Linked DNA regions of Homo sapiens. The protein of the gene in region 2 interacts with the protein of the main gene of each other region in a biochemical or structural test. Each region holds a gene or a part of one and is shown on either strand. Other genes may lie near its edges. The genes, in order: GOLPH3, POMGNT1 and GOLPH3L.

Evidence for each region.
Region 1: the proteins of POMGNT1 (region 2) and GOLPH3 form a complex in vitro, tested with the Homo sapiens proteins (one study listed by BioGRID).
Region 3: the proteins of POMGNT1 (region 2) and GOLPH3L form a complex in vitro, tested with the Homo sapiens proteins (one study listed by BioGRID).

The regions. Positions count from the first base shown.
Region 1 is NC_000005.10:32,143,232-32,150,342, forward strand, and holds part of GOLPH3 (Golgi phosphoprotein 3), read right to left. Parts: intron 650-7,111; coding exon 518-649; intron 1-517. UniProt on the Homo sapiens protein: Phosphatidylinositol-4-phosphate-binding protein that links Golgi membranes to the cytoskeleton and may participate in the tensile force required for vesicle budding from the Golgi.
Region 2 is NC_000001.11:46,188,349-46,195,459, forward strand, and holds the end of POMGNT1 (protein O-linked-mannose beta-1,2-N-acetylglucosaminyltransferase 1), read right to left. Parts: intron 6,614-7,111; coding exon 6,496-6,613; intron 6,304-6,495; coding exon 6,205-6,303; intron 6,054-6,204; coding exon 5,926-6,053; intron 5,578-5,925; coding exon 5,507-5,577; intron 5,292-5,506; coding exon 5,216-5,291; intron 5,041-5,215; coding exon 4,957-5,040; intron 4,868-4,956; coding exon 4,826-4,867; intron 4,611-4,825; coding exon 4,552-4,610; intron 4,243-4,551; coding exon 4,170-4,242; intron 4,089-4,169; coding exon 3,960-4,088; intron 3,876-3,959; coding exon 3,750-3,875; intron 2,437-3,749; coding exon 2,372-2,436; intron 2,170-2,371; coding exon 2,125-2,169; intron 1,642-2,124; coding exon 1,506-1,641; intron 1,220-1,505; coding exon 1,110-1,219; intron 1,010-1,109; coding exon 922-1,009; coding exon of another isoform or gene 894-921; 3' UTR 633-893; coding exon of another isoform or gene 371-632; 3' UTR 335-370; downstream 1-334. UniProt on the Homo sapiens protein: Participates in O-mannosyl glycosylation by catalyzing the addition of N-acetylglucosamine to O-linked mannose on glycoproteins.
Region 3 is NC_000001.11:150,645,730-150,652,265, reverse strand, and holds the end of GOLPH3L (Golgi phosphoprotein 3-like), read left to right. Parts: intron 1-3,038; coding exon of another isoform or gene 3,039-3,085; exon of another isoform or gene 3,086-3,134; intron 3,135-3,517; coding exon 3,518-3,945; 3' UTR 3,946-6,036; downstream 6,037-6,536. UniProt on the Homo sapiens protein: Phosphatidylinositol-4-phosphate-binding protein that may antagonize the action of GOLPH3 which is required for the process of vesicle budding at the Golgi and anterograde transport to the plasma membrane.

The DNA.
Region 1 (7,111 bases), on a different chromosome or scaffold from region 2:
TAAACAGATGCTTGAAGGCAGCATGCTCCTTAAGAGTCATCACCACTCCCTAATCTCAAGTACCCAGGGACACAAACACTGCGGAAGGCCGCAGGGTCCTCTGCCTAGGAAAACCAGAGACCTTTGTTCACTTGTTTATCTGCTGACCTTCCCTCCACTATTGTCCTGTGACCCTGCCAAATCCCCCTCTGCGAGAAACACCCAAGAATGATCAATAAAAAATAATAATAATAAAATAAAATTAAAAATAAATAAATAAATAAAAGCTGCAAATGAAGTCTAGAATCTTTCTGAATTTGTAAGATCCAGTGGCCGGTTACCTTAACAATCAATTACATTACTCATTGTAGGTGAAAGAACCAGGAAACCAAGAATGCAAAAAAGATATGGAAATACAATTGAAGAAAGACAACTTTAATATCAACTTCCACTTTAATTTTTGAAGGCTACTAGTAAAAACATACATTTTAAGCAGTACAACCTCTTTAAAAAGAATGTTACTCAGCACTCCTCTTACCTTTCTTGTTAATAGACTTTTACGTCTCATTCCACAAGCCTCTAGTTGTAACCTTCCTCTCAATGCTAATTCAATTAACATACAGCCACGTAATCCAGATGATATACAGTCATTCCAAAATGATGTGTAACCCTATTAAAAAAAGAAGAAGAAATAAAACAAAATAGCTAATTTACCTTGAATTCAGAGTAAAAAACAGAAATATTATCAGCCAAAGTCATATTTGGTGCCTTTTACCTTTCCTGTCTTTCTATAATAATATACTGAAAAAATACAATTAACATAAATTACTAATCGAGAATTTTCGGGGGCTTATCTTTCCACCACTTATTCTTACATACAAACAACAAATAACTTTAGAGGTCATAAGTTTAGAAACATAACTCACATTTCACCAAGCTGTGTGTTTATTAGGTTCTTTCAGAACCCTGCAAACTCCAAGGAATACTCAGTTAACCCCAGATTATAGTGATTTATTTATGTGGACAAGTTAAGAAGCTCAGGCAAAGACAACCTAGCCAAGTTAGCTTCACAGAGAATTAGAATACCATTCATTTATTGCTGTTTAGGATAAAACCACAAGGTTAATCCGAGCACTTTGGGAGGCTGAGCCAAGACGATGGCTTGAGCCCAGGAGTTTGAGACCAGACTGGACAACATAGTGAGATCCTGTTTCTACCAAAAAAAATTAATTAGCTAGGTGTGGTGCTGCACACCTGTAGTCGCAGCTACCCAGGAAGCTAAGGCAGGAGGACCACTGTGTCCAAGAGTTCAAGGCTACAGTGAGCAATAATTACACCAACACACTGCAGCCTGGGCAAAACAGTGCGACATTGTCTCTTAAATACACACACTGTTAATTTTGTAAGAAGATATTAGAAAAACACACATGCGCCCACAAACAAATGGATGGCTATAGGCCTAAAATTCTCAATAATAAACAGTATAACAATCAGATTGGCCCCAAGAGAGAATGTAAGGGCAGCATCCACAGTGGAAGAACGGCCAGACATAAGGAGGTTGATAGACATCTAGAGATCTGGGATACTGGTCAAGCAGGCATCACCAGATGAGGTCAGGACACTTTAACAGCAAACAACTGGGGTTGTTCAAATTATAAAGCCACAAATCTTGCCAGCAGGATTGCCAGCTATCAATTTAAGATACCCAGTTCTCATGAGACAGCAGAAGCTATAAATAACTCTCATTAAGGCTCAGAACAGGGTAACACAATTTTGGTAGGAGAACAGGCCAACTGAATCTCTAAAGAATGGAGGGCCCAGGATTAGGAAGGCCTGGCCCTCACCTCTGGCACTTTTCCAAGGTCAATCCTGGCACTTTGTCAGGCCAGAGTAGTGAGCTTGTGTTTCAGAAGATGACTGACCATTGAGGTCCATCAAACTTCATTTTTGATACAAGGAGTTAAATTCGCCTCACCAAGCTACCACTTCTGAGAATGTGACCTTTGGGAAAATAACAATTTAAAGGAGGCACAAGCGGATAAACAAAAACATCAGTGTTAAGAGATCAATTTAAATGTGAGGTGTAAGTAGCAGACACTGACTGGATTTTAGGGAGTCACTTTAAACTTAGGGTCGGGGCCTGATCAAATGAAGATTACCAGAGATTTAGCAAAGTGGCTAATAATACCAGTACTTTATAGAGGTTAGGTAAAATGCGTGGCTTCTGTGTCCATGAAATTAAAGCCCTAGGAAGCCTGAGAATGAATTCCACATGAAATTAAAGTTACAGATATCTGGCTTTGACTGGCCTGGACATATAGACAGAGTTCCTAAATGAGCCTCTACAAACTGTAAACAACAGAGAACACCTCATAAAGCAATAATGGACGTGAACAGCCCTACAGCCTGCAAACTCCAGCTGAACAGTACCTGGAGGCTTACATTTGACAGCAGAGAACTAAAATATGTCTCAATCTCAATTGCTCCTAGAGTAATGGCATACCCAGAGATATTAGCAAAATGGGGTCTTTAGTAACAGACTTCAGAGATCTAAATTTAGTGAATGGCTTTAGGCATCATCGCTGAAAGACACATGCTTAAACAGAATTGGATTCACATGGGAAAGTAGATGAATGGGAACGGACAGTTCTGTACCACAGCTTCTGGGACTCGTCAGCAATATTCCAAAGATAAATGAAGCCAACAAAGACACACCAAACAACAGAAAAGTACAGTATGTTGATACCCTCCTGCTAAAATCCATGTCATAAAAGCAGGATCAAAAATTAACCATAGGGTGGCCAGGCGCAGTGACATACACCTGTAATCCCAGCACTTCGGGAGGCAGAGGCAAGCAGATTGCTTGAGCCCAGGAATTCCAGACCCCTGGGCAACATGGTGAAACCCCATCTCTACAAAAAATACAAAAATTAGCCGGGCATGGTGGCACCCGTCTGTGGTCCCAGCTACTTGGAAGGCTGAGGTGGGAGAATCACCTGAGCTCAGGAACTTGAGGCTGCAGTGAGCCATGATCATGCCACTGCACTCCAGCCTGGATGACAGGAGTAAGACCCTATCTCAAAAAAAAAAAAAAGATAAAATATGTGGGGAAGGTTAGTAACTGGCAGCATCAAGCAGCTTATGACTGTAGTCATAATTAGTTCCTATGTTCTAAAATATAAGGATGGGAGAGGACAGAGACACCCCAAGTAGGCTGGGCCATACACTACCAGACCTCCATCTGCCTGATTCCCTTTATTCTTTCAAGTGGCTCAATTTGAATGGTAGAAAAGGGTATTGTTTATTAAGTCCCCTAAAACTGCCAACACTGAGAAGAGTTCTCACCATTCCAGTTAAGAGCTACTGTTCTGCTCTCAACTGCCTACTTACCCAGAAGCTTTTTGTTAAGAAGGAACTCAAAAGGTTGGTAACCCAAAATGAAATGTAATAAAAATATTTTGTATAAAGATCATAACAGGGATATAACCGGAAGTATAAGATTTTCCTTATATGTTATTAAAAACATTTACAACATGGGAAAATGCTCATAATATATATTCTACATGAGAAACAGATAAAAAATTATATTATCTAAAGCAGAGTGTCCAATCTTTTGGCTTCCCTGGGCCATACTGGAAGAATTATTATCTTGGCCCACACATAAAATATACTAACACTAATGACAGCTGATGAGCTAAAGAAAACAAAAAAAAAAACCTCATGTTTTAACAAAGTTTACAAATTTGTGCTGGACCAGATTCAAAGCCGTAGGCCACCTGCGGCCCACAGGCCACGGGTTGGACAAGCTTGATCTAAAGTGTAATCTTATTTTGAAGTTACATAAATATTAATACGTATGTATATCATAGGTTTGTATTTACAAAAAAACTTATAAATGTTCACATCCTTTGACACAATTCTTATGGGCCTTTAGTTAGAAAATACTGTGCACAAAAATATATGTACAAATATATTGATCACATCATTATCATAGTAAAACACAAAAACAATCTAAAAGCAAAAAAAAGGGAATAAACTCAGCACTTCCCAAACTTTCCTGACCTTGAAGCATTTTAATTTACAGTATACTTTTAACAGCCTACAGAATATTACAATTCTATGAAAATCAGTTTTAAAAATCCTGGTGCAGGAGGCGGAGGCTGCAGTGAGCCGAGATTGCACCACTGCACTCTAGCCTGGTGACAGAGCAAGACTTCATCTCAAACAAAAAAAAAAAGAAAAGAAATCCTGGTGCAGAGGTTATTACAAAACATGAAAAATTATTATGAAATCGTGTGTGTGTGTGTAGAGAGACAGAAAATAGTCCCATTTTTTAGGGAGATTAGAAGAAAAGTTTTAGCAGCAGTAATGTCTGGTGATTATGGTGATCTTTATTTTCTTTAGGCTTTTCTGTATATAGTAAAGGAAAACTCGTGGCAAGGAGATAAGTAAGGTTTTCCTTACTGATCAACTATAGTTATAGTTGTTCAAGCTTAAAAGGCAATAGTTATGATAGTGGCAGTAATTTGACAGAGGCAAAACACTAGAAGAACTAAAAACTCTCCATGAAAATAACTATGAACCACAAAGTAAAACATATTTGTGAAGTAGTAAAGAACTGTGCTCAAGAGCCCAGACCGCACAAACACCTGGCGATTCAAATCAACTCCAGCTCTACCACATACTATATAGTTAAATTTCTGAGACTAGTTTTCTTCATATAAAACAAGTTGTGAAGATTAAATAATATATATAAAGCACAACCCCTGGCAATTAGTAATTACTTAATTATGTACAATTAGAATGGAATGGGGATGGAGGACTGCAAACTCAGTTACTTAGAAAGTACAAAGAACATGACTGAATAAAGAGACCCAGGTGTGGATTGCAGCAAGCTGGACAATGTCCTCTTCCATCTATCTGGGGAAGACAGCTTAGCCCTTATCAACTGTTGCCATGTAAAATGTGGGCCTGCTCTTGCCACATCTTTTTCAAGAGGGCAGAAACGTCCGTTTCTATATATTACTTCCATCTTTGAAAGGATTACAACTCAAGTTTTACTAAACAAAACATATCTGGCAAACCAGTTTGCAACCGCTAAACATTTTACAAAACATACTACGTTATATGAATGTTCAGTTACTAGTAGTCTGTATAGGCATAAAGTACTCAAAATAGTTTCATTTTGTTTTTATGTACAAAATATTTCAAAATGAAATCACTAAAAACACTATATTTTCTATATAAGGTTGAATTCTGGTGTGACCAATGTTTTGGAAATGGCTTTCTAATAGAAATATAGGCCAGGTCCACATGGTGGCTCACGCCTGTAATCCCAGCACTTTGGGAGGCCAAGGTGGGCAGATCACGATGTCAGGAGATCGAGACCATCCTGGCTAACACGGTGAAACCCCATCTCTACTAAAAATATAAAAAATTAGCTGGGCGTGGTGGTGGGCACCTGTAGTCCCAGCTACTCGGGAGGCTGAGGCAGGAGAATAACGTGACCCCAGGAGGCGGAGCTTGCAGTGAGGCGAGATCGCGCCAATGCACTCCAGCCTGGGCAAGAGAGCAAGACTCTGTCTCAAAAAAAATAAAAAATACAAAATACAAAATTACCCAGGCGTGGTGGCGCATGCCTGTAATCCCAGCTACTCAGGAGGTTGAGGCAGGAGAACTGCTTGAACCTGGGAGGCAGAGGTTGCAGTAAGCTGAGATCGCACCACTGCACCCCAGCCTGGGCAACAAGAGCGAAACTCCATCTCAAAAAAAAAGAAAAAAAGAAAGGTGATTGTACTTGCCAAATCTAAATGGACCAGGATGAACAAATTAAGTCTCCCTCCTGAGTATCTGAACTTGCCATACTGAATCAGTTATATGGGCATGGCACTGGAGCTGTACTGGCTGTGTGGATTCAGAAGCTACTGGCCATTGGGTACAAATGCAGAGAATGAAGGTAACAGAAAGGAAAACAGAAGACAAATGCAGAGTAGAAATGAGAGAGGATGCAATGTGAGGCAAACCAAGACATACAGAGACAGAGAGGCAGACAGGCACATACACGGAATAGCATGTTTGTTGTTTTAACCTGCTATGTTTTGTTATGCAGTAAGATAATTAATACAGTGGGTGCCCAGGGCTGGCAAAATGGGAAAAGGGAGAGGTAATGGCTAAAGGGGATGAGCTTTCTTTTGGAAGTGATAAAAATATTCTAAAATTGATTATGGTGGTGGTTGTACAAATCTGAAAACCTTGAATTGTACACTTCAAATGACAATTATATGGCATATGAATCATATCTCAGAGCTGTTACAAAAAAACATTCTATAAAGTCACTTCTGAAATCTTACATGAAATTTTGATTATGTCAAAAATTAAGAATCAAAAAGTTCTTGACAAAAATAACTAATCAAGAGAATGAAGGTGACTTCAGGTAAAAGCAGATTAAAAAGACTAGACAAGAAAAGGTATCTACAGATATAAGAACTGTTAAAGAAGTAGTAAGGCTGGGCACTGTGGCTCACGCCTGTAATCTCAGCACTTTAAGAGGCCGAGGCGGGCAGATCACCTGAGGTCACGAGTTCAAGACCAGCCTGGCCAAGGCGGCAAAACCCCATCTCTACTAAAAATACAAAAATTAGCCAGGTGTGGTGGCTCATGCCTGTAATAGCAGCTACTCGGGAGGCTGAGGCAGGAGAATCGCTAGATCCTGGGAGGCAGAGGCTGCAGTGAGCCACTGCACTTCAGCCTGGGCAAAAGAGTGAAACTGTCTCAAGAAAAAAAAAAAAAGTAGTAAAACTGCATTTGCTGGTGATATTGTTGGATATTTAGAAAAACTCATAAGAGTAAATGGAAAAATTACTATAGATAGGAGTTTAGTAAAGTAGCCAGATTATATAAAATTAAACACCAGTTGTCATATACAAACAAAATACACATGTTAAAATACTAAAAAGTTAAAATATAATTGAAAAGACCTTTACAACAGCAACAAAAAGAACAAAAAATACCATGGCAAAACCTATATGAAAAGTTTAAAGTCTCTTGAAAGACTTAAAAATAGACTTGAATAATAGAAAGATATTTCATTCTTATATACAAAGTCTCAGCATTATTATTAGTTCTTCCTAAG
Region 2 (7,111 bases):
CCTTTTTGTTCTCTCCTGCTCTGTCTCTGGGGACAGGTGCCCGGCCCAGGCAAGATAAGCAGGAACCCGGCTGGTGGTTAAACGGTGGGGAAGAGGTAGGGTGGCTGCTCCAAGCCTCAAGTAGGGCGGGGCTAAAGTCAAGCTGTCCTAGGGTAGAGTTGGGGAAAAACCTTGGAGTTTGAGACTCAGGCATCCCCTGGTGGCCAAATGGCCCCAAATGGAAGATAAACTCTGTGGAGGACAGTAAGGAAAACTCACCATCCAACACAAGTATTCTCTCCACCACTTCCCTCCAGCACCCCCCTGACACACAAAATCACAATCACAAGACATCCCCAGAGGGCTTCTCCTTTTTTAATCAATGACCAACTTATCCAGCTTTGGAAATCTGGACAAAGAGAAGGCTGAGAGGAGGCCTGGTCCAGTGTCTAAGGGTCTCTGAGTGAGTCTGTGTCAGCATGTGGGCCCCAGCTGGGCCTGTCCATGGGTTGGGCACAGCAGTTTCCTGAGTAAGAGCCAGCCCCACCCTCAGGGCAGCATTCCAGCCCAAAAAGAAATCCAGGCCCTCCAGGTTCGGCCTGTTTTCAAGGCCCTCAGGACAGTCAATAAATAGGTTAGATTCTGAGCCAGGCCTGGAAAGTGAGGGTATTCAAAGGGCAGGATGAGCTGCTAGGGATCGTAATGATTCCCAGGTACTCTCCTGCCCTTCTCCAACAAGGAAGTAAATAAATAGACTTTTAACTCAGGAACGGGGTGTTGGAGCAGGGGAACCCTCCCCTTGGAGTTAGTAATTAAGTCTCATGTTAAAAACAAGGTAGCCCCAGCCCCTACCAGCATCTACAAAATCCTACAGGATGGAGGGAAGGGCTAGCCAGCCTGGGGGTACACAGTACCCAGCCCCGCAGGGTCCTGGAGGAGGTCTCATGTCTGTTCTGGGGCTCCTGGGGCTCCCTCCTCCTTTGGGGGTGGCTCCAGGAAAATTGGGGTGACTGAGGGTGGCTTCTTCACTCTGGGAAAATAATACAAGAATGTATAGAGAAGAAGCCATTAGCTATATCCCTGGATCTCACTAGGCCTCCTGTTTCCCAGGGCAGAAAAGGGTCACTCACGAGTAGGGGGAAGCCGGGACCCCCACCATCAGGAAGTGGTTCTTCTTCCGAAACAATCTCCACAGGCCCCGATGGTTGCCACGCACATCCAGGTCCCAGATATGGAGGCACTAGTGAGGGTGGGATGGAGACAGAGACATGGGTCAGAGAGCTGTAGGGAGGGGTCACTGACGACCCTTTGGCCCAGCCCCCACCCCTCCTCAGAAACCACCTCAATTTGTAAGAGATAGCATCTTTTAGAATATGAATTTGGACAAGGAGGTTGGAAGAGGTGTTCTAAGAGTATAAAGAGGAGGTTCTGAGGTTGAAGATTCCAGAGCAAAGGCTCCCTGGATCTTGGGGCAGTATGTGTGTGAGGGGGAGGGGTTCTCCAGGGTGGGCATGGTATTGGAGCACCTTGGCAAGCTGGGTCCAGGTGGTGAAGTCATCATCTTTCTCCATTCGAATAAAGGCCACGTAGGTGTGGCCCTCTGTGTCTGGCAGGAAAGAGTCTTCACAAGGGTTCTTGCTGTGGTCCAGAACCTCAGCCTCACTGCAGTAGAGGGTGGGAGAATATAGCCAAGACAGGGCCCACTTCATGGGTGTGTCCCACAGGACCCTGTACTTGGTTGAATGCTCTGCTGTTGCCACCTTGAAGTTCTTTTTTTTTTTTTTTTTTTGAGATGGAGTCTTGCTCTGTCGCCCAGGCTGGAGTCTCCTGCCTCAGCCTCCCAAGTAGCTGGGACTACAGGCGCCTGCCACCACGCCCGGCTAATTTTTTGTATTTTTAGTAGAGACAGGGTTTCACCGTGTTAGCCAGGATGGTCTCGATCTCCTGACCTCATGATCCACCCACCTCGGCCTCCCAAAGTGCTGGGATTACAGGCGTGAGCCACCGCGCCCGGCCTGAAGTTCCTAATGTTTGAGATGAGGGCCCTGATTTTCATTTTGCACAGGACCCTGTAAATTATGGGGCCAAGATCCCCAGTATTTGACTCTTTGCTCCCTGCTACACCCCAATTGTCCTAGGCCATACCTGAGCAGCCTGTGAACTTCCACTTCATAAGCTTCTTTCTTCAGACTGAAGAGGAGGGAGAAATGGGTCAGGGGAGTGGGCAGGCCCTCAGGTCCCATGGGTAGCACTGAGCAGGGCAAGGGGTCACATGGGAATCTGTAGCCGCAGGGCTGGAGTAAACACACAGGCCCAGCATTGGAAGGGACTTTCAGGGACTGGCCTCCAAATCTCCTAGATATCCACCCCTTGCCCTGCTGCCAGCCCCAACCTGTCCACATTCCTGAGCTGGACACCTGGAACCGTGTTGAACTTGTGCTTCTTGAAGTAGGCCTCCTGGAGTGGGTATGAGAGTGAAAATCAGCACCTCACATTGTCTGGCCCACACCCACTTGCTGACCAGCCAGACATCTATAAGACACACAAATGAAGTCCTAGACCTGTAAAGAGCCCTCTAATTTCCCACCGTCTTCTCCATCCTCTTTGCAGCATCCTCAGCAAGCTCTTACTAGCTTTAATTTGGCCTCCACCATTGCTGGAGAGCTCATGCTGTCACGGCAGCTCACACTACTGCACCACAGACCCATGAACTAGCAGTCCCTGCCTCTTGTAGTTCTCCCTGGGCCTGCTGTTCTAGAGCCACAGATGTCAGAAACAGGCCCTGCAGGAGGTGGTGGGCAAAGGGACGGGCTGGGCTGGGAAGGAAAAAACTACTTTGACTCTGGTACTGAGAGTGACCTGAGGGAAGCGCCTGCCCCTCTCTGGGAGAGGAATGGGGCTCGCGTATTAGTCAGCCTCTGAGGGACCTCTGGCTTCTAGGAGGTTCCAAGCTGGACGCTATTCATTCCTTTGGGCTGGGCTGGCTCAAGGCCTCCCTTGCTGTAACTGGGGAATGGTCCTCTGAATGCAGCCAGGTGGGTTGGCGGTACCTAAGGACTTCCCTGTTCTCCTCAGGCTGAAGCATAGGCTCCAGCACTTGCCAAAACAGGAAAGGGCAGAGATTGCAGGGCTGGACCAGTACTTAGAGGCAGAAATACTCTCCCCAGACACCCACAGTCTAGTGCTAAAAATAGTAAAAATAAAAACAATACCAGCTGACCCTTATATATGTTTATAATTCAAAGCACTTTACATATATTGACTCATTTAAACCTCAAAATATCGTAACCCAGTGAGGTAGTAGTATTTTATCCTCTTTTTTTTTGAGATGGAGTCTCGCTCTGTCACCTAGGCTGGAGTGCAGTGGCGTGATCTTGGCTCACAGCAAGCTTCGCCTCCTGGGTTCACGCCATTCTCCTGCCTCAGCCTCCCAAGTAGCTGGGACTACAGGCGCCCATCACCAGGCCCGGCTAATTTTTTGTATTTTTAGTAGAGATGGGGTTTCACCATGTTAGCCAGGATGGTCTCGATCTCCTGACCTTGTGATCCACCCGCATCGGCCTCCCAAAGTGCTGGGATTACAGGCGTGAGCCACCGCGCCCAGCCCTTTATCCTCATTTTTCAGATAAAGAAACTGAGGCAAAAATAGGATAGCTCTTTCCCCAAGGTTACATGGCTAGCAAGTAGCAGAGCTAAGATTGCTTCAGAGTCCATGTTCTTGTTCTTGACTGTCATGCCACACTGTGCCCTGCTCCCTGCCTCCCACTCACGTGAAAGTAGCCATTCATGTTGAGGCCGACGATGCCAAAGTGGTAGGATCGGGAAACGTCAGGGATGATGCACTCTCGGCCCCGGCGTTGTTCAGGCATCCGCATCCACATGTCCCAATCCCAGAGCTGGCAGACATGGACCACGATGAAGGTTAAGATGTTTCGAGTTGGTAGGGGACTCCAGCCCCCTCACCCTACCCTGACAGTTACCTTTTCCGGTGTAGGCCACTTGGGCTCAAGCTCCTCCTTGTACAAGGACCTCCTGAGCACCCAGCCCAGCCCAGGCATGGTCTCCACACGGTACAGTAGTGCTGGGTCCTCAGCCGTGTGTTCATACCCCTGGGGACAGGGTGCCATAGTGGGAGGTATTAGCTGAGGCCTCATAAACTCGCCTGCTAAACCCTGGTCATTCCAGCCTACCTGGTCATTCCAGGCAGAGATGCAGTACAGGCTGTCATCCTCCTCCAGTAGGTGGATGGATTGGCTCAGGAAACTGAGAGAGGCAGGGTCAAAGAGTTCAGGGAGGGACAAGGATAAATCTAGTCACACAGAGATGCTAGAATTGCTGGAGCTGGGTCTCAGGAGCACCTCCTTCCTGGAGTACCTCCTTCCCCCAAATCCCCACTGTCTCCATTCATCCACTGTACCTTCAACAGCAGCCCCAACACCTGCCATCCTACCTTTGCCCAGGCTTCGCCCCCACTTGTGAGCTCATGTCCTCCAGAAAGCTCTCTAGGACACCTCACTGACTCTTTCCCTGCAGACTGAGGGACCTCAACTGAAACCTAGAGACTCCCCTCACCTGAAAAAATCCACAGCAATGTCCAGGTCCTCTTCCAGAACCACAGCAAACTTGGCCTCCTAGAAGGGGAATGGGACATCATGGTCCCAAAGGGGTCTCTCCATCCTGTGATCTCCTTTGCCCCCAACCCTCTTCTTGCAGGCAGCATTACCCCCATTTTCCAGATGTGAAGGATGAGGCCCAGTGAGGGGAAGAGCTTGCCACGTAACAGGCCCAGACCTTATGCCCATGTTTCCCCCCTCCCAGGCCCAAGAGTTGTATCCTTAGTACTCACCGGAAACAGGTTGAAAGTGGCAGTGAGGCTGGCCTTGTAGTGCTGGGAGTGGGGTGGGAATAGGGCACATGAGCTTTAGGGTAGAAGGCAGAGCCAGGTGTCTGCCCCATCCCCACTTGCCTATGCAGTACCTGAGACACGCGGGCATTCTTGATGCTGATGGGAGTATGCTGGATGCCCCTCAGACCAAACAGTGCCACCACATCCATGGGTTCCTGGGGGACATGGCCACTGCTCACCATGTGAGGTCACTTTCCCTCTGCCCACCTCTGCAATCCAAGGCCTTCACATTTCACAGCCCTTGCCTGGGCGGTCTCCCTTGCCCGTCCCTGGCAATCACTGCTGCTCCATGTTGTACTCCACCCGAGGCACCCCCCAAGTCCTGCTCACCTCATAGTAGCCGTCAATGAAAACTGTTATCATCTGAGGAGACACCCCCTGGGCTGAAAGCAGAGAGCGCAGCATCCTGGGGAGCCCAGGGATAGGTTAGGGTCACTTCATCACCCCTCAACTCAGGTTCCCCTGTGTTTACAGCTGGGCCCAGAGTCCCTATGCTTACCCACAGAGGTGAATGCGTCTAGAATCTATTGCCTTTCTGCCCACCTCAAGAGTTCCTCCTGGAGGTAGATGACCTAAGCACCCTCCTGTTCAGTGCTGGGTATAGCCCATTCCCAGGCTTACCTGTACAGGTAATTGGGTCGGTTCCCTGCAATGACAGCCACAGGCACATTGAGGACCTTGTTGTCTGGGAGCTGTGGGAGAAATAGCGTTTAGCTCTTGCCTTATTCCCCCTTCAAACTGGGATCCCCACCTAGGGAAGACTTCTCAGGTGAGGGTAGGTGCAGACTGGAGTAGACAGGGAAGGGATAGAGGATCTTCCCTGTTCTGGGCTCTCCACACACTCAGCCCAACTCTAGCGCTGAGCTTTACTCACATGGCCTGCCCCTTCACCCCAGCCCTGTCTTTCAGAGCGCAGTGTAAATCCTGCCCCTGGTTCTCTCCCAGGCTCAGGTAGGGAAAGCCCAACCTAGATCATTCCTGGGGCCCCCCTGCTGAGCTGGGAAGGAGTCCAAACCTCACTGTCTTAAGGCCCCACTCACTGGGTCAGGGCTGAACTCGATGGGTGTGGGGTCCTTGCAGCTGCATACACTTCCATAGCCCTCAACTTTGCTGCAGAAGCGCCGGCGGCGACGGTTCAGCTCTGTGTCTGCCCAGTGGCACTCTGCCTCTGAGGGAAGGATGCGGTTGTCATGGAGGCATGGGGCCAGCAAGGTTTGAAGAGCCCCAGGCACACAATCAAAGGAATAAAGCTCCACAGAGAGATCTAAATGCCCACCCCCAGCCCAGGCCCTGCCCCATCCATGCTCCACTAACTCCACCTTCTGCTGAGCTCAATGGCACATCTGTCTTCAGCAGGACTGGGTCCCCCCAGGAAGAGAGGGCAGGTGATTTAGAATGTTTCTCCCCGAAGACAGGACCTGGCAGGAGGCAGGAATGAGGGCCATGGGGGCCCAGACACCAGTTTGGGGGCTTTTTCCCATCTCCCTGCCTACTTTCATCCAACCCACTGCCACTGGCTCCTATTTGTTCCCCACCCCACCCCATCTCCTAGGGTTCTGCTCCTCCCAGGCTCTTGATACTACAGAGTGGATGGCCTCTGATGCCGGCACCTCCTTTTCGTCCCACGAAGGCCCATGTGTCCCTCCAGCCCAGGGCAGGGCCAGCCTGGCTGCCCAGGCTCCTCAGCAGAGCCTTGGCTGTGTCCTTGAGGTGGAAGGAGCCCTCATCCTGGGGGACCAGAGAAGGCAGTTAGCCTGACTGGCATGGTTCCAGGAGACCTGGCCTCACAGAGCACGAACTATGTAGCAACCTTTTACTTAAAATAGCTCATTACATTATTGCAATAACCCTCTATGGTTACTCTCTTTCACAGATAAAATAATAACTGAAGGCTTAGAGATTCTAAGGTCATCCAGCTAATAAGTCCTTTCCACAAACCCACACGATCTGCACCTCTCTCTCCCGCCACTCTCTGCCTTCTTTTCCAACCACTCTCCTACTCTCCTCCCTTATTCTGCTCCACCTCGACTAGCATCTTTGCTGTTCCTCAAATATGCCGTGTACCTTCCCACTATAGGGGCTTTGCACTTGCCATTCTTTCCACCTGGAATGCTCTTCCTCCAGATACTCACCTGGCTCACTCCTCAATTCCTCAGCTTTCTGCTCACATATCATCTCCTTGCAGGGGCCTTCTCTTTCTAAAATGTCCCCTCCCCTCTATCATTC
Region 3 (6,536 bases), about 100 Mb from region 2:
GGGACTACAAGTGCATGCCACCACACCTGCTTTGCTTTTATTTCTGAAAGATAGTTTGCCAGTTATAAGATTCTTGGCTAATAGTTTCTACCCTCACTTTGAATAAGTCTACTCATTCTTCTGGCCTGCATTTTTTCTAATGGGAAGTCAGTTATTAAGCTTACAAAGTTCCACTGTGATGTGATAAGTCATTTTTCTCTTCTGCTTTCATGATTTTCCACTTATTTTTGGTTTTCAACATTTTTACTATGATGTTGGATATGGGTCTCTTTGTGTTCATCCAACTTGGAGTTTGTTGAACTTCTCCAATGTGTGGTTGAGTGTTTTTCATCACGTTTGGCAAGATTTTAGCCATTACTTTCTTGAGTATTTTTTCTGCCTCTTTCTCTCCTTTCCTTCTGGTGCTTCCATTTTATGTATGTTCATCAAGTTGATGATACTTTATATTTCTCTGAGTCTGTTCATTTTTCTTCATTCTCTTTTCTCCTTGTTCTTCATATTACATAATTTCTTTGATCTCTAAGTTTGCTAATTCTTTATTTTGCCAGCTCAGATCTCTTGTTGGATCCCTTGAGTGATTTTTTCATTTTGTTTGTTGTACTTTTTTTTTTTTTTTTTTTTTTGAGTTTCGCTCTGTCGCTGAGGCTGGAGTGTAATGGTGTGATCTTGGCTCATTGCAACCTCCGCCTCCTGGGTTCAAGTGATTCTCCTGCCTCAGCCTCCTGAGTAGCTGGAACTACAGGCACACACCACCATACCCGGCTAATTTTGTATTTTTAGTAGAGACAGGGTTTCACCATATTGGCCAGGCTGGTCTCAAACTCCTGGCTTCAAGTAATCCGCCTGCCTCAGCCTCCCAAAGTGCTGGGATTACAGACGTGAGCCACCATGCCCAGTCTGTTGTACTTTTAAACTCTAGGATTTCTAAATGGTTTTTTTGTTTTTGTTTTTTTGAGATGGAGTCTTGCTTTGTTGCCCAGGCTGGAGTGCAGTGGCACTATCTCAGCTCATTGCAGCCTCCACCTCCCAGGTTCAAGCGATTCTCTGCCTCAGCCTCCTGAGCAGCTGGGATTACAGGTGCCCACCATACCTGGCTAATTTTTGTATTTTTAGTAGAGATGGCGTTTCGCCATGTTGGCCAGGCTTGTCTTGAACTCCTGGCCTCAAATGATCCACCCACCTCAGCCTCTCAAAATGCTGGGATTACAGGCGTGAGCCACCGCACCTGGTCTAAATGGATCTTTTTTATAATTTCTGTCTTTATTTATATTCTCTATATGATAAGTCATGGTTTCCCTTAGGTCTTTGAACATATTTATAAAAGCTGCTTTATAGTCTTTGTAAAGTCCAACATTTTAGCGTTCTCAAAGGCAGTTTCCATTGCCTGCTTTTTTTCTTCTGAATGGGTCAATGGGTCACAATTTATTCTTTGTATACTTCATACTTTTTTGTCAAAAACTGGACATTTTAGATAATTGTGCAACTCTGGATACTACACTGCAGCTGTCCCCAACTTTTCTGGCACCAGGACAGGTTTCGTGGAAGACAGTTTTTCCACTGGGGTGGGAGACGGGGGGATGGTTTCGGTATGATTCAAGTGCATTGCATTTATTAGAGTCTCACAAGGAACATGCAACCTAGATCCCTCCCATGTGCAGTTCACAATAGGGTTCACACTCCTGTGGGAACCTAATGCCACTGCTGATCTGATGGGAGGCAGAGCTCAACTTTACTCACCCATGGCTCACCTCCTGCTGTGCAGCCGGGTTCCTAACAGGCTGCAGACCAGTACCAGTCCATGGTCCAGGGGTTGGGGACACCTGCTATACTGGTTTCTCCTTCCCACTAGAGGTTGATTGTGTTGTTTGCTTGGTAATTTGTTTCCTTAGTGACTTGCCTGCAGCAGCTCTCTGAAGTCTGTTTCTCTTGTAGTGTGCAGCCTCTGATGTCACTGCTCATATTTTCTTGTTTTTATCTTTTGGCCTAACTCCCTGTGTGTTGCCAGTGGGTCAGTAGAAGCCACTTATTAGTCAAAGGTTGTGCTTAAGACCTTTTAGCCAATTAAATTTTTTTATCCTTTACTGTTGGATATGTGTGTGTGATTTTGACATAGCCATCACAAATCAGGGAGTTTACATTTTGCCCCACATTCAGTGAGGAACTAGCAGCTTGGAAGTTCCCTCTCTGATTTCTTCTCGGAGAGAGTACATCCTTGGACATACACCAGGGATGTATGTGATTTTTTTAATTTTATTTTTATTTTTTATTTTTCATTTCTTGAGATGAAGTCTCACTCTGTCACTCAGGCTGGAGTGCAGTGGTACAATCTCAGCTGACTGAAACCTCCGCCTCCTGGGTTTTCCTGCCTAAGCCTCCAAGTAGCTGGGACTACAGGCGTGTACCACCACACCCGGCTATTATTATTATTTTTAAGCTTAGCTTTCTAGGAGTTGCCTCTGAGTTAGGGTAGCTTATTGTTCAGCCAGTGTTGGTTCAGTGGTTGTGCTTTAGCCCTTGGTGCCAGTGAAGCATCCACCCTTTTTTGATAGATCTATGTGTGGTCTGGGGAATACTCTCAAGTCAAGCCCCACGTCCTGCTCTGATTGCTCCTGAGTGGGTGCAGCCTGGTGCAAGCACACAGTCTTCCCAACCCCCAGTGTTGGTCATGATTCCAGAAGGACTTTTCTTGGCTTTCTGTTTCTCTGGTTCTGCCTGTTAAACTTCTGGAGGCTTTGCCATTTGGGTTTGTCATACCAGTGCCATAGAGCTAGCAGCACCTTGTAATTGCTCTCCACCAAGATCTCTATGGTTTTCAACACCCTTAGGCATAGAATTCTCCACACTGTGTTCCAAATAAAGTCAGTCCTCTCAGGCAGAGCTTTGGAGCTCTTCATTCTTCAGGCCTTCCTTCCCTCCTGGGCAGAACTTCTGCACAAGGGCCCACTTCTCCTACAGTGATACCCACCTGCTGTATGAGTAGGTGCTGGGGGAAAGAGGTGTTAGCCCCTGGTCTTCTTGACTTGCCTTTTCTGTTGCAGAATCTCTAATCTACGAACAAGCTGGAATGGGAGCAATTGAAGTCTAAATATTGTCAGCCTACCAGGCCTGGGATAGAGCTTCTGCTCTACAAATAGGGTAGGGAACCTCAGTCCTCTTAGCTTCACCAGCAAATAGAACTTCCACAATATAGAGTAGAAATCATCTGGGAGAGACTGGTGTCCTAAATAGAATTTGAAAAATACATAAATAATTACAGTGTCACAGAGGTCACATAAGAACAGAAATAAAGTCTATAAGCTCTAGCAATATGGAAGTCCTTGGTGACATTTTTTGAAGCTGGTTTAATGTGAAATGTGGTTGGAGTCAAAGCCAGATTATAAAGGACTAAGGATTAAATGAATTGAGGAATGAAGATTATGCTTTTAAACATTTTAGCCATTCAAGTTTCCAAACAACTACATGTTTCATTTTGCTTTTCTCTTTCAGTTCATTATGTCCTATTTCTTTTTTCTCATAGGTGAGACCTGGAACCCCTTCAAATTACAGTACCAGCTGAGAAATGTACGAGAGCGCATCGCAAAGAACCTAGTAGAGAAAGGTATTCTAACCACTGAGAAGCAGAATTTCCTGCTATTTGACATGACTACTCATCCAGTGACCAATACAACAGAGAAACAGCGACTAGTGAAAAAACTTCAAGATAGTGTACTAGAGCGGTGGGTAAATGACCCTCAGCGTATGGACAAGCGAACACTAGCACTCCTGGTGCTAGCCCACTCCTCTGATGTGCTAGAGAATGTCTTCTCCTCTCTGACAGATGACAAGTATGATGTGGCAATGAATCGAGCCAAGGACTTAGTAGAACTGGACCCTGAAGTGGAAGGGACAAAGCCTAGTGCCACAGAAATGATCTGGGCTGTGCTGGCAGCCTTCAATAAATCTTAAAGCCGGCAGGTGGATTTCTCCTTTTCCCCTGCTGGCTGGTGACTGTCAGAGACCCCATCACTGAGTTTTGTGTGATGAGATGTTTTCATCATTTTTGTTTCCTTTTCTTGAATCAGACTTGTGATTTGGGGAGAGCAACTTCAGGGCTTCTCCATAGACCTTGACCATTATAAGCAGACCTTATTTCTCCCTACACTTCCACTCCATAGGTAAATAAACTGGGTGAAGCCACACACACCCAATGAACATTTTCTCCCATTTGGTGGTTTAGTTTCACCCAGTGTGCTTTTGGATAAGCAGAAATATCTAAATGGGATTTTGAGTTCTCCAGCTATAGAATGTGAATGAGATAAAAAGTGAACTATCTATTATATTTTTCTGAGTTTGTTTTCTATCATAAATACATGTTTTCACAGCCTTTGTCTCTCAGACTCTGCTAAATAATGTAGCTTATTGAAATAACTGTCGCTGAATAAGGAGCAATGAGAAACAAAACTAATTTTTGGAGCAGATGGTCTCTGGAATTGCATATCCTGCTAGTGATTTTCTCATCTTTCCTTTTCTAACCTAATGAGAATGTCCCAGATTCAATTACCTGGATGTCAAAGTCCTAGAGCCAGAAATATATTCTCTCATCCCTCTTAGCATTCTCTTGCTCCCTCATTCACTAGGGCAAATGTCTAAATGAAGAAAAGTCTCTCTCAACACCTCGTTCATGCAATCAGCATTAGAATTTGTAAGGAAGGAAGGGGGGTGGCATGAAAATTTCCATTCTTGGGGTATATGACTGTCCTGTTTCCCCCAGGCCACTTTTTTTTTTTTTTTCTTTTGAGACAGGGTCTTGCTCTTGCCCAGGCAGGAGTACAGTAGTGCAATCACAGCTGACTGCAGCCTTGACCTCCAGGGCTCAAGGATCCTCCTGCCTCAGTCTCCCAACTAAGTGGGACTACAGGCACGTGCCACCATACTCAGCTTTTTTTTGTTTGTTTTAGACAAGAGTCTCGCTTTGTTGCCCAGGCTGGTCTTGAATTCCTGGGCTCAAGCAATTCTTCCACCTCAGCCTCCCAAAGTGCTGAGATTACTGGCTTGAGCCACTGCACCCACCCCTCCAGACTACTTTAAATGTCTCTGCTCTGACTGAATTGAAGGAATTGTAAGTTTCAGTTGCTGAATATATCAGTATATCTGAACTCCAGATCTTTTTATTTCCTATTTTTGGCTTCCTACATAAATTAATAAAGTCTGTCTATATTTAAGGTTTCTGGGAGTAGTTTTGTCTATATTTAATCCATAGATGTGCTCCTAGTCATCAGTCTTATTTCAGTAAAACCATCTTTCTGGCCAAATCTCTAACACGTTTTTTACTTCAGTAGTGAGGGCAATGAGAAGCTTTATTAAGAAAGATCCTATTTAAAGGGCTAATTTGGTATTGAAAGCATGCTGATATAAAGTCCAGTATTTGAGGATATAAAGAGGATGTGCACTGAGCTGTGCTGATGTTCAGCATTTATTATACTTTAATGGGATAGTGCTTCTTGACCATTATAGAACAACAAACTGTCAAAGGGTTAATACAGATGACCCAGACCTGACATTAAATCCTCTTGATTAGAAATAATTAAATGAATTATTTATTCATTTCTCTCCTCTGCCAAATCTACTTAGCCCCACAAAAATGCCCCAGCTCAGTTAACATTTTTTTGTTTTTCACTTTAGGTATCTCTTAGGCAAATAGAGATATAAATTGTAATAGGAAACAGTCTCTAAATGTGAGGCTGAATACAGCTTCAGTCTGGCTCTCTAATAGGACAAAAGCCAGTCCATGTGTTGTCTCTAACTGATTTAGCTTTTTCTTTTCTTTGAACAATTCGGCATGAATTGAAACCAGGTTTTCCTGTGGAAAGTTATAGCTTGATTGGGAGATAGAAGTTGAATTGAGTTCTTTCTTGCAACTCTTAGTGTTTATTTTTATATCTCAGTAAGACGAGGATACCTTCAGTTTGAATCTGCATAATGTTCACTGCCAAACTCCTTCTCATTTAATGCTTATGGCCTTCACATTTCTGTATAATAAAGATCAATTATCAGCTCTCTGGTCTCTCTGTGCACAATTTTATAATTTAAATTGTTTTAATTGGAACTAAGGACTTTCTACACAAGGCTATTAATGCCTCCCCCTTTACACTAGCATACCAGCTTGTTTTATCCTATGTAGAAAATGAGGGATACAAAAACAATTGTAACATACATAGGCTGAGGGGCAGGACATGTCAAAAGCTGACCACATGAACACCAGCTAATACTATAAAGCCTAAATAGTGTCTCCATCTCAATCAAAATAAATTAGCCAATTATACCATTATTACCATGAAGAGAATGAATATGATCTGTTCTACTAATATCTACTTGCAAATGACACCTGAATTTAGGAGTTGAAAATCTTAAGTTCCAAATGTAGGTGACATGCCTGACTATAACAGAGTTAACATGTAAAAATGTAAGTGTGCTTATAATTGGCTTATTGTTCTCCCTTTCTTTATCTATAGCACAAGGGACAATAATACATTTGTTTATTAGGATTGTTTATACTT